2 separate regions of the Homo sapiens genome follow, and region 2 is linked to region 1. A link means that fine-mapping ties the variant in region 1 to the expression of a gene that starts in the linked region. Tissue or cell type: whole blood. Region 1 holds a variant in brackets; the other region holds the start of a gene. All regions are shown on one strand. Distances are between the middles of the regions.

Region 1 (5,150 bases):
GCTCAGCTGGATAATTCCTCTGGATTAGGGGAACTCTGGGGGAGGGATTTTAATAAGCGGAAATGTCTCCCCACTCATGGAATAATGGGTTGAGACAAAGAGCAGCTGGAAATCAAGAGAAGGCCAAAGAGGGCGAGAGAGAAAGATAATGTGAGAAGAGGAAAGAAGAAAGGACCGCTAGCTACAGCAGAGGGTTCATTCTCAGGGGAAAACTCATGCTAAAATTCAAGAAAACCTCTCCTAAAGTAAGCTGTTTGGCGATCTTGAGAAAGGCTTAGCCTCTGGAAGCAAAGTGTTAGCTAAATACAAAGACTTGATATAGTCTGGATGTTTGTCCAAGCCTCAAGTTGAAATTTGATCTCCAATGTTGGACGTGGGGTCTAACGGGAGGTGCTGAGTCCTGGGGCAGATCCCTCATGAACAGATTCATAACCTCCCTGTAGGGGGTTGTGAGTGAGTTCTCTATTAGTTCCTGCAAGAACTGGTTGTTTAAAAGAGCCTGGCGCTTCCTCTCTCTCTTTTCTTCCCTCTCCATGTGATTTCTGCACCCGCTGGCTCCCCTCCAACTTCCACCAAGAGTGGAAGCAACCTGAGACCCTCACCGATGCAGATGCCCAAACTTGGACTTTTTCAGACACCAGCATTGTAAGCCAAATAAACATGTTTCTCTATCTAAATTACCCAGTCTCAGGCCTCCCTTCAGAGCAATACTAAATAGACTGAGATAACCCGATATATATTTCAGAAGGATGGTGGTAAGAAGAACATGACAGAGACTCTTCAGTAATCTTGATTGCTGATAGTGGTTATTGAAGATCTTACTCATTCATCTATTTGGCCGTAGGGTCTCTTGAGGCCAGAAGTTCAAGACCACCCCAGGCAACATAGTGAGACCCCCATCCCTACAAAAAATTTTAAAAATTAGCCGGGTGTAGTGGCATGTGCCTGTAGTCTCAGTTATTCCGGAGGTTGAGGTGGGAGGATCACTTGAGCACAGGGGTCTGAGGCTGCAGTGAGCCATGATCGCGCCACTGCATTCCAGCCTGGGCAATAGAGGGAGACGCCCACTTCTAAAAATAAATAAATAAATAAATAAATAAACAAATAAATAACTTTAATTGTAAGTTAAAAGAACTGTTGCATCCAGTCATTAATAGTTCATCCTGTATCTTCCCATATTCCCCCAAGTCAAGGCCCTCACATCTCCTACAAAGCACAGAAAAAGCCAACTCACATGCCACCCTGTGACCATCAAAACAAGGCGGCACGTCAGACTCCCCTGCCTAGACCCCAGTGTGAGCTAGCCAGGCTGGAAAGGGATCAGCCTTCGTGCAGGCCCTCGGCTGGGTCTGGCTGGGGTTTCAAAAGAGTAATCCCATCCAGTCCCTTAGAGGTTGGGCTGAGCCAGTTGTCCAAGCAGATAAACCTCCATATTCTGCCAAACTCCCCATACGAGGAATGCTAATGGGCTAAAACTTGACAGGAAAAATAAATTTGTGGATCCCCAAGCTCACTGCTCAGGTAAGATGATGGGGCTGCACCCATGATAAAGTTCTCTAACATCTGTGCAAGGGCAGAAACCTTCACTGCGAAAGAGACACATGCAGTAGTCATTGATTTTTTTTTAAGGGAAAACAGCCTCAGGAGAACCATAAAACTGGAAACGACATGAAAGATGGCCTTCTAATGTAACCCCTGGGCTGAATTTTTCCAAAAAGATATTATAGATGGAGCAATTATAAAAAAAAGTATCCATAAGTGATTACAAATAGTGAAGTGGTGCTCGAGAGACAGAAAAATAAAAGCTGCTCAGGCTTTTAGGAACTCCAGTTAAATCCTACTCTTGGGCAAAAGCCAGCTCATGGTCTGGAAATCAGCCTTGGATGCTCATTAACAATACCTTCCCATTCCCACCACAGCCTGCGTTTCCTCGATCTCTACCTCATCAACTCCATCCTACCTCATGCTTTGAAATCTTTACCCCTGAAAAGATTCGAGGAAGAGCAGGGGGCCATAGTGGAGGCCAACAATAATATCAAGAAACCCCCCAAAACCTTTCTTCTCCACACACACTACCCCTACTGAAGGATGGTACATGGGGACTTGCAGTATAGGAATTTGGAGGGAAATGAAGGGGATTTTAGATGCAAAGGCCAATAAGATGAAATCTTTGGTGGGAAGGTAAACAGAAAGCAGAATTTTATGAAAAACAATTTACAATATGAATCAAAAGATTTAAAATGTTCCTATCACCTCAATGACTCTCTCCCAAAGGAATCACAAGAAATCCTTCCCCCAACCCCACACACGAAACACACACAAATGTGTAAAATTAAAATGATAAAGACTGGTCATGCCAAGTCACACAGAAGAACTGGAACTCTCATAGACAGCAGGCAATTATATATAATGGCATAACCACTTTGGAAAACTATTTGGCAGGTTCTAAAAAGTTAAGCTAACACCTACTTTATGACCCAGTCATTCTACTGCTGTGTATTTACCCAAGAGAAAAGAAAGCATATCTACACAGAGATACCGCAGAGATATTGTGGGTTCAGTTCCAGACCACTTCAATAAAGCAAATACCTCAATAAAGCAAGTCATAAGGTTTTTTTGGTTTCCCAGTGCATA[T/C]AAAAGTTATGTTCACACTATGCTCTACTCCCTTAAGGATGTAATAGCATTATGTCTGAAAAAATATACACATCTTAATTTTAAAATAGTTTATTGCTAAAAAAGCTAATGATCATCTGAGTTTTCAGGGAGTTGTAATCTTTTTCTGGTGGAGGGTCTTGCTTTGATGTTGATGGCTGCTGACTGATCAGGATGGTGGTTGCTGAAAGTGAGGGTGGCTATGGCAGTTTCTTTAAATAAGAACAGCGCAGTTTGCACCATTGATTGACTCTTCTTTTCATAAAAGATTTCTCTGTAGCGTGTAAGAATGTTGCATAGCATTTTATCTGTAATAGCACTTTCAAAATTGTAGTCAACTCTCTCAAATCCTGCCCCTGCTGTATCAACCAAATTTATGTAATATTTGAAATATTTTGTTGTCATTTCAACAATGTTCGTAGTGTCTTCACTAGCGGTAGATTCCATCTCAAGAAACCACTTTCTTTGCTCATCCATGAGAAGCAACTTCTCATCTGTTCAAACTTTATTTTGAGATTGCAGCAATTCAGTCACATCTTCAGGCTCATTTCTTATTCTGGTTCTCTTATTATCTCCACCAACTCTGCAGCTACTTCCTCACTGAAGACGTAAGCCCCTCAAAGTCATCTATGAGGGTTAGAATCAACTTCTTCCAAACCCCTGTTAATGTTGATATTTTGACCTGTTCCATGAATAAGAATGTTCTTAATGGCATTTAGAATAGTAAATCCTTTTCATAAGGTTTTCAATTGATTTTGCCTAGATCCATCAGAGGAATCACTATCCATGGCAGTTACAGCCTTATGAAATGTGTTTCTTAAATAATAAGACTTCAAAGTCAAAATTACTTCTTGAGCTGTGGGCTGCAGATGGATGTTGGGTTAGAAGGCATGAAAACAACATTTATCTCCTTGGACATCTCCATCAGAGCTCTTGGGTAACCAGGTGCATTGTCAGTGAACAGTAATATTTTGAGAGGAATATTTTTCTGAGCAGTAGATATCAACAGTGAGCTTAAAATATTCAATATACCATGCTGTAAACAGATGTGTTGTCACCAGGCTTTGCTGTTCCATTTATAGAGCGCAGGCAGAGAAGATTTAGCATAATTTCTCAGGATCCTAGGATTTTTGCAATGGTAAATAAGCATTGGTTTCGACTTGAAGTCTCCAGCTACATTAGCCCCTAACAAGAGAGCTAGCCTGTCCTTTGAAGTTTTAAAGGCAAGCAACAGCTTTTTCTCTCTAGCTATAAAAGTCCTGGAAGGCATCTTCTTCCAAGAGAAGGCTGTTTCATCTACATCAAAAATCTGTTGTTAGTATAGCCACCTTCATCAGTGATCTTAGCTAGATCTCCTGGATAACTTGCTATAGCTTCTATATCAGCCCTTGTTGCTTTCATTTTGGACTTGTATGTTATGGAGATGTTTTAGTTCCTTAAGCCTTATGAACCAACCTCTGCTTTCAACTTTTCTTCTGCAGATTGCTCATCTGTTTCAGCCTCCATAGAACTGAAGAGAGGTAGCACCTTCCTTTGTATTAGGCTTTGGCTTAAGGAAATGTTGTGGCTGGTTTGATCTTCCATCCAGACCACTAAACTTTCTCCATCTCAGCAATAAGGTTGTTTCACTTCTTATCATTTGTGTGTTCCCAGGAATGGCACTTTTAATTTTCTTCAGGAACTTTTTCTTTGCATTCACAGTTTGGATGTTTGGTGCAAGAGGCCCAGTTTTGGCCTATCTTGGCTTTCAGCATACCTTCTTCTATCTATGGCAGTATAGCCTTATTAATTGTATTTCTTAAATAAAAAGACTTGAAATTTCTTATTATGAAACTAAGCTTCATCATTTCTAGCTTTTGGTTTAAAGTGAGAGACATGTGACTCTTCCTTTCACTTGAACACTTAGAGGTCATTGTGGGATTGTTAATTGGCTTAATTTTAATATTGTTGCACCTTTGAGAATAGGGAGGGCCAAGAAGAGGCAGAGGGATGGGGGAACAGGTGGTCAGTGGAGTTCTCAGAACACACACAACATTTATCCATTAATAATCTAATGTGAGCATGATTTGTTATGCTGCAAAACAATTACAACCAAAAGCATCAAAGATCACACCGATTACAGATCACGTAACAGATGTGAAAGTTGGTCATAAGAATTGGGTCATACTTGTCATACCCAACTAAAACAGAGACCAGAAGCCAGAGAGGAAAAGACACTCAGGGTACAAAAGACTGTTTAAAGAACACAATTATCTGCAAGCCTGACTGCTGTAACTGCTTGTGGTAACCTGAAACCAGTATTATTTATACCTTTGGTGATAACTTGCTGCAACTCTAGGACTAATTATGCCCACTGCCATCGGTCACAGATCAGAGTTTGCAATCTCCCCAAACAGTTACTAGCACCAATAAACTTTGTGAAAAAGCAATATGTAACATTTCTTCTTTTTTTATAAATCTTCTAACCTTCTTTTTGTTTTTTGGACATCCTGGAGACC
Region 2 (5,150 bases), 86 kb after region 1:
CCCAGGAGTTTGAGACCAGCCTGGGTAACACAGAGACACTCTGTCTTTACAAAGATAATAATTATTTAAAAAAACTATCCAGGTGTAGCCATGCATGCCTGTGGTCCCAGCTACTTGGGAGGCTGAGGTAGGAGGACTGCCTGAGCCCAGGAGGTCAAGGCTGCAGTGAGCCATGATCACACCACTGCACTCCAGCCTGGGTGACTAGAGTGAGACCCTGTCTAAAAAAACAAAAAAAAAGTTAAGAATAAAGCCCACTGCATCTTTAAGCTAAATAAATCCTCTGAAATAAAAGAAAAGTATCTTTTAGCAGTTATTGTTAGGGTCTCACAGGTCCTTTTCTTTAAGAAGACTGTTAGCTAGGTTCTTCTCCTCCTCCAAATACACCCAAGTAGCAGGTTCCTTCTTTGCCAAGTTCTCCAGAAGAGGTCACTGGGCTTCAACAAGCGGAGGAAATAGCCAGGTTTTGTCTTTCTCTTATAATCTCAGGCCACAGAGAACTGTAGCCTTGCTGCTAAGTTTTGGGAGGGGGAAAAAGCAGAGGAAGTATTCCAGCCTTCAGGAATAGGCAGTAGGTCCCTTCCTGGGACGCTGATGGGTGAAGACTGTCTACACCTTCTAGGCCACAGAAAGGACACTGTCCAGCCCACCTCCACTGCAGGCAGATGCTCCCATGCCTGCTCCGCGGGATGGAGGAAGACAGTTTGGAAACCAGCTCTGTGTGGGCTCTGCAAGTTCCCACAGCTCCTCCTGACACTGGGCTATCTGAGGAGGTGGGTGCCCAACCACTTCCTCAGGGTCTATCACAGATTCACAAAGCAGCAGTTCTGCTTGGCGACTTATTGCCTCCTCAACAGGCAAGTAAGAACACAAACTTGTTTTTGCGGAAGGGGTGACATTGGTATCAGAGGCCCTACTTTCTAAGATTCCCCAACCTTTGCACAGCCCTGTGCAAAGGGAGTGTGGAAGGATCTGGATTGCTAGCGTGGGGGAAGTTTCCTTGAGAATGTCTCATCAGTTTACGAGCACTCTTTGCTCCCATTCTCAGCTCAGAAATCCTTGGATGTTTAGAGAGGCAACTTTCATCACACGACTGCCAGGGACGGATGGACGCAAAGATTTTTAAAGGGAAGTCATTGAATAAGAAAAGAACAAATGAAGCCCTGGGCTTCCCACTGTCATTGACTCACTGCATCCTGTTAAAACTGGTTTCTCAGTCGCAGCAAACAGAATTTACCACCGCATGCAGCCAAAAAAAAAAAAAAAAAAAAAAAACCTCTTTTCCCGTTGCACTTCTGTGCCTGGAATTATCTCCTATTTGTTTTAAGTAAAAGATGGTGAGAAACACAAGTGGCACCCACAAAGCCTTGCCTCGCCTTGCCTGGTGCAGCAGTGCCAGCTCTCCACAGCATGGGGAAGGCACTTCGCAGCCCACATTCCTTACTTCTGAGGGGAGGCAGCCCCCAGAATTATGCAAATCCTCCCCATTTCAGTAGGAGGCTGCAGTGTCAGATTAGAAAAAAGAGCTCAGCATTCTTTCTGATCCAAGTCATGAAAAAAATGTCTTTGCCTCTGCAAACTTCTGCACTAGATTTGTGGCTACAGTTTGCAAGACTGAAGCTGTCAGATACACTCCCACCCCATTTCAAAAAAGAATCTGAAGAATCAAGGTGGCCAGATCTTTAAGATTAAATATTTTGGCCCAAAATACCCCCTCAGACTTACATCAGAAGTTGCTTATGCCTTATTCTGAAGTGACAGAATTGCAGAAAACATTCACCTAAAATTTTTTTCTGTATGTTACAGTTAAATTAATGCAACGCCAGTAAAAGGAAAGAAATATGTGTGGAAAGTGTCTGAACTTCAGCACACTCCACTGGCCAGGGCTGACCAGGCAGAAAGGAGAAAGTGACAACTTTACCACCCACTAGCCCCCTGCCTCCCTACTCACGCAGAGGGTAAATTACGATATTCACCCAACTTTTCCTTTTCTTTTTTCTTCCTCCAGTGCTGGAGGAAAGAAAATCTCAGAGGGAGGAATGTGGTTTTGCACCCACTACAGTCGAAACCAACCAGACCTCAGGAGAGAAAAATAACTGCGGAATTCCCTAGGGCTTTCTGTCAAATTTTCTTCTCAGAAAGGGAAGGGGAGAGGAGTTGTTAAGAATAGTTCAGGCCAGTGATCAGGAAAGCCTTCTGAGCCTGACTCCGCACTGAATGCATCGCCAAAACTCCTCGCCCCTAGACCATTGGGCTTTGCTATCGGCTCTGCAAAACCATGTGCAGGGAGAGCTTACCTGAGAGAAACGCACACACCGTGAGCTGGCGCTCTCCGCTGCGAATGCCCGGCCGCCTCCATGCCCAGCAGAGGATTCTATGTTCTAAGTGTGTGTGTCCCCGGATACCAGCAAAGGTTAATAACGTGCTCACAGCATGCGTTTCAGAGGGCTCAGCCAGGGCTCGGGGAAAAGGGCATCATCTCGTTGCCTCTGGAGCCCCGCTGCTGCATACCCTGCACCCCCAAACCATCCCCCCGGGTCCTGGTCCCAGCAGCCAGGCGGCCTTCCGTCTCTCCCCCTTGACAATACTCTAGCGGTGGAAAGCAGTCCTCAAAGCGCTTCAGCCTCCGGCCGCAGACAGAGCAGCAAGACCAGAGAAACCATCCTAACAGTCGGTCCTCCCTCCTGGAACTCGTAGGAAAGTTTCCCCGTTTTAAAGAGCGCGATTCTCGAATGAATCAAAAACACCCTCCAGCTCCTCGGTCCTCCCGGCCGGGCGCCTCCCTGCACCTCGGGCACCACCCGGGGCTCACGCGGCCCCGGCACTGCCCACTTCCCGAGCGGTCGCCTGTCACCCCGGGGGTAGCCCGCTCGGCGATCGCAGCGCCCCTCCAAAGCTCCCCTCTGCGACCACGCTCGCCAGACAAAAAGAGGCCGAATTTGGAGAGCGCGTCGCGGGCTCACCTCTGGGCTGCGCTCCCCCGGCCCCTCCGTCGGTCTCCGAGCCGCCAGCCGCCCGGCCGGAGCATTGTTCGCAGAAGGTCTGCGCGCGGTGCGTGCCCGGCCGCGGGCGGGTGGCTTCTGCCTGGGCCCGGCGGCCGGGTGGCAGCTGTGAGCGCGGCTCCGCCCCCTCCGCCTCCGGTGACGCCGCCCGCCCCAGCTCACGCCGCACCTCCGCAGTCCCTGCCGCCGCCCGGCCCCGCCTGGCCCGCGCGCCCCGCCGCCCGGCTTGCGCCTGCCGCTCCCACCCGGCGGTCTCCTACCCCCAGGGCCCCGACTCCTCCAAAGTCTCCAGGCCCCGGGACTCCCTCTCTTGCCCACCCTCCCGCCCCGGACCGGCAGGCTCCGCCCCCAGCCCCAGACTTGGCGCGGGCTGACCCCCGAGCCCAGCACCCGTTTGCACCCCCTCCTCGGTGGGGACCCTGCACAGCTCTGGAGGGGCGAGCTCTGGCGTTGCAATCCTCCTTTTGCCATCATGCGTGTATAGGTGCCCGGCATCACTTCATCCAGCCGGCCCTGCGGGACCCTGGGAAGAGAGGGAGAAGGAAGGGGAAACGAGGAAGTGTGGGGTCGGGAGTGGAATACAGGTCAGGGTCCGAGGCGGGCTCTGAAAGCCACGTGAGCACAGCGAGCCTCAGCTCTCCCTACCTCTGGGAAGAGGGTGGCGCCGGAGGGAGCAGGGCTGGAAGTCCCGGTGGCGGATTCCAGGTTCCGCTCAGTCCCTGGACTGCAGGATTCTGGCAAATTGCTTAACCTCTTTGAACTTTAGTTTTCTGGATGTAGAATGCAAGCGTTGCACTGCAGGGACCTGGCCTTCTACCATGCTGGGACATCCAAGTCTTCCGCAGGCCAGTAATACACCTGTGTTTACACCGTTTCCAGTGAGTCATTCACTGAGATAGAACGAGTTCGAGATAGTCCTCGGGCTAAAAAAATCTTTTCACTGGGAGTATAATAGCTTAAGACCCAGTCAGTCCTGTAGCTTGACCTGGGTGTTTACTCGGGGAGCCAGGGCTATGGTCACCTCCCAGGGCCATGCCGGGTGGGAAGAATTCAGTGAAATGGAATAGGAAGAGGACCCCCCTCCCCCACAAAACAATACCTGCGGCTTCTCTCGCCCTCTATCCCCTCCCCAGGAAGGCAGTTTATTTTGACTCCAGTGAAGGTCCTCTGCCAGTCAGCCTGCGAGCCCCCACCCACTGAGAGGAGGAAGATGGGCCCCCACCCCCACCCCCAGATCCCTGGCTCTCCTCTTTGCTGCTGTGGGTGTGGACAGAGAGGGAAGATGTGTATTTGAGGTTTGGCTTCTGTGTGAGGAAAGGGAAAAAAGGATCCAGGGAATTCTTCCTCATGTTCCAGTGACACCCATGCCTCCTAAGAGGACAGAATCTGGGGGAAGCTGTAGAGGGATGGGAGTGCAATGGACATTCCTTAAGGACCTACCCAGCGCTAAGCAATCCTATGAGGAGAGCATCATTATCCCCATTCTACAGATAAGAAAACTGAGGCTCGGGGGCCTCACAATTTGCTGGGGTTCCTCAGCTGAAAAGTGGTAGTACTAAGATTGGAACCAAAGGCTGTCTGGCTTCGCTGGTAGGCAAGTCTACTCTGCCACTCTGCCCTTGCCAAGTGCAGGTAGTCCAGCCCTATTTTTCTCTCTCCCCTAAGTGGAGAGAAATCATTTGAACAAATACTGGCCGTGCGCGGTGGCTCACACCTGTAATCCCAGCATTTTGGGAGGCCGAGGCTGGCAGATCACCTGAGGCCAGGAGTTCAAGAACAGCCTGGGCAATGTGGTATAACCTCATCTCTACTAAAAATACAAAAATTAGTCGAGTGTGGTGGTGGGCGCCTGTAATCCCGGCTACTCAGGAGGCTGAGGCAGGAGACTCACATGAGCCAGGGAGGTGGAGGTTGCAGTGAGCTGAGATCGCACCACTACACTCCAGCTTGGGTATCAGAGCAAGACCCTGTCTCAAAAAAAAAAAAAAAAAAAAAAGGAAGGGAAACTTTGGTTACACTTCATGAGCATCCAACAGAGCTGAAAGATCCAGACCCTACCAAGACTCAAGAGGGGAAGATGTTGATTAAACAGGTAGGTACAAAGTGGTCTGCAATGGAGAAATACAAAAGTGACTTCAGAAAGTGTGC

Evidence for each region. PIP is the estimated chance that this variant, and not a neighbour inherited with it, causes the effect.
Region 2: PRAG1 starts here. The variant in region 1 is fine-mapped to the expression of PRAG1 in whole blood (TOPMed, PIP above 0.99).

Annotation. Positions count from the first base shown.
Region 1 is chr8:8,297,202-8,302,351 of GRCh38, forward strand. No RefSeq gene overlaps it. Among named protein-coding and RNA genes, the nearest start is that of FAM85B, 72 kb to the left of the region's middle. The variant T/C (reference allele first, on the strand shown) is at 2,635.
Region 2 is chr8:8,383,358-8,388,507 of GRCh38, forward strand. PRAG1 (PEAK1 related, kinase-activating pseudokinase 1) reads right to left here and starts at 3,082. Exons shown (of 6, transcript NM_001080826.3): 1 at 2,964-3,082. RefSeq lists a silencer at 2,785-3,464.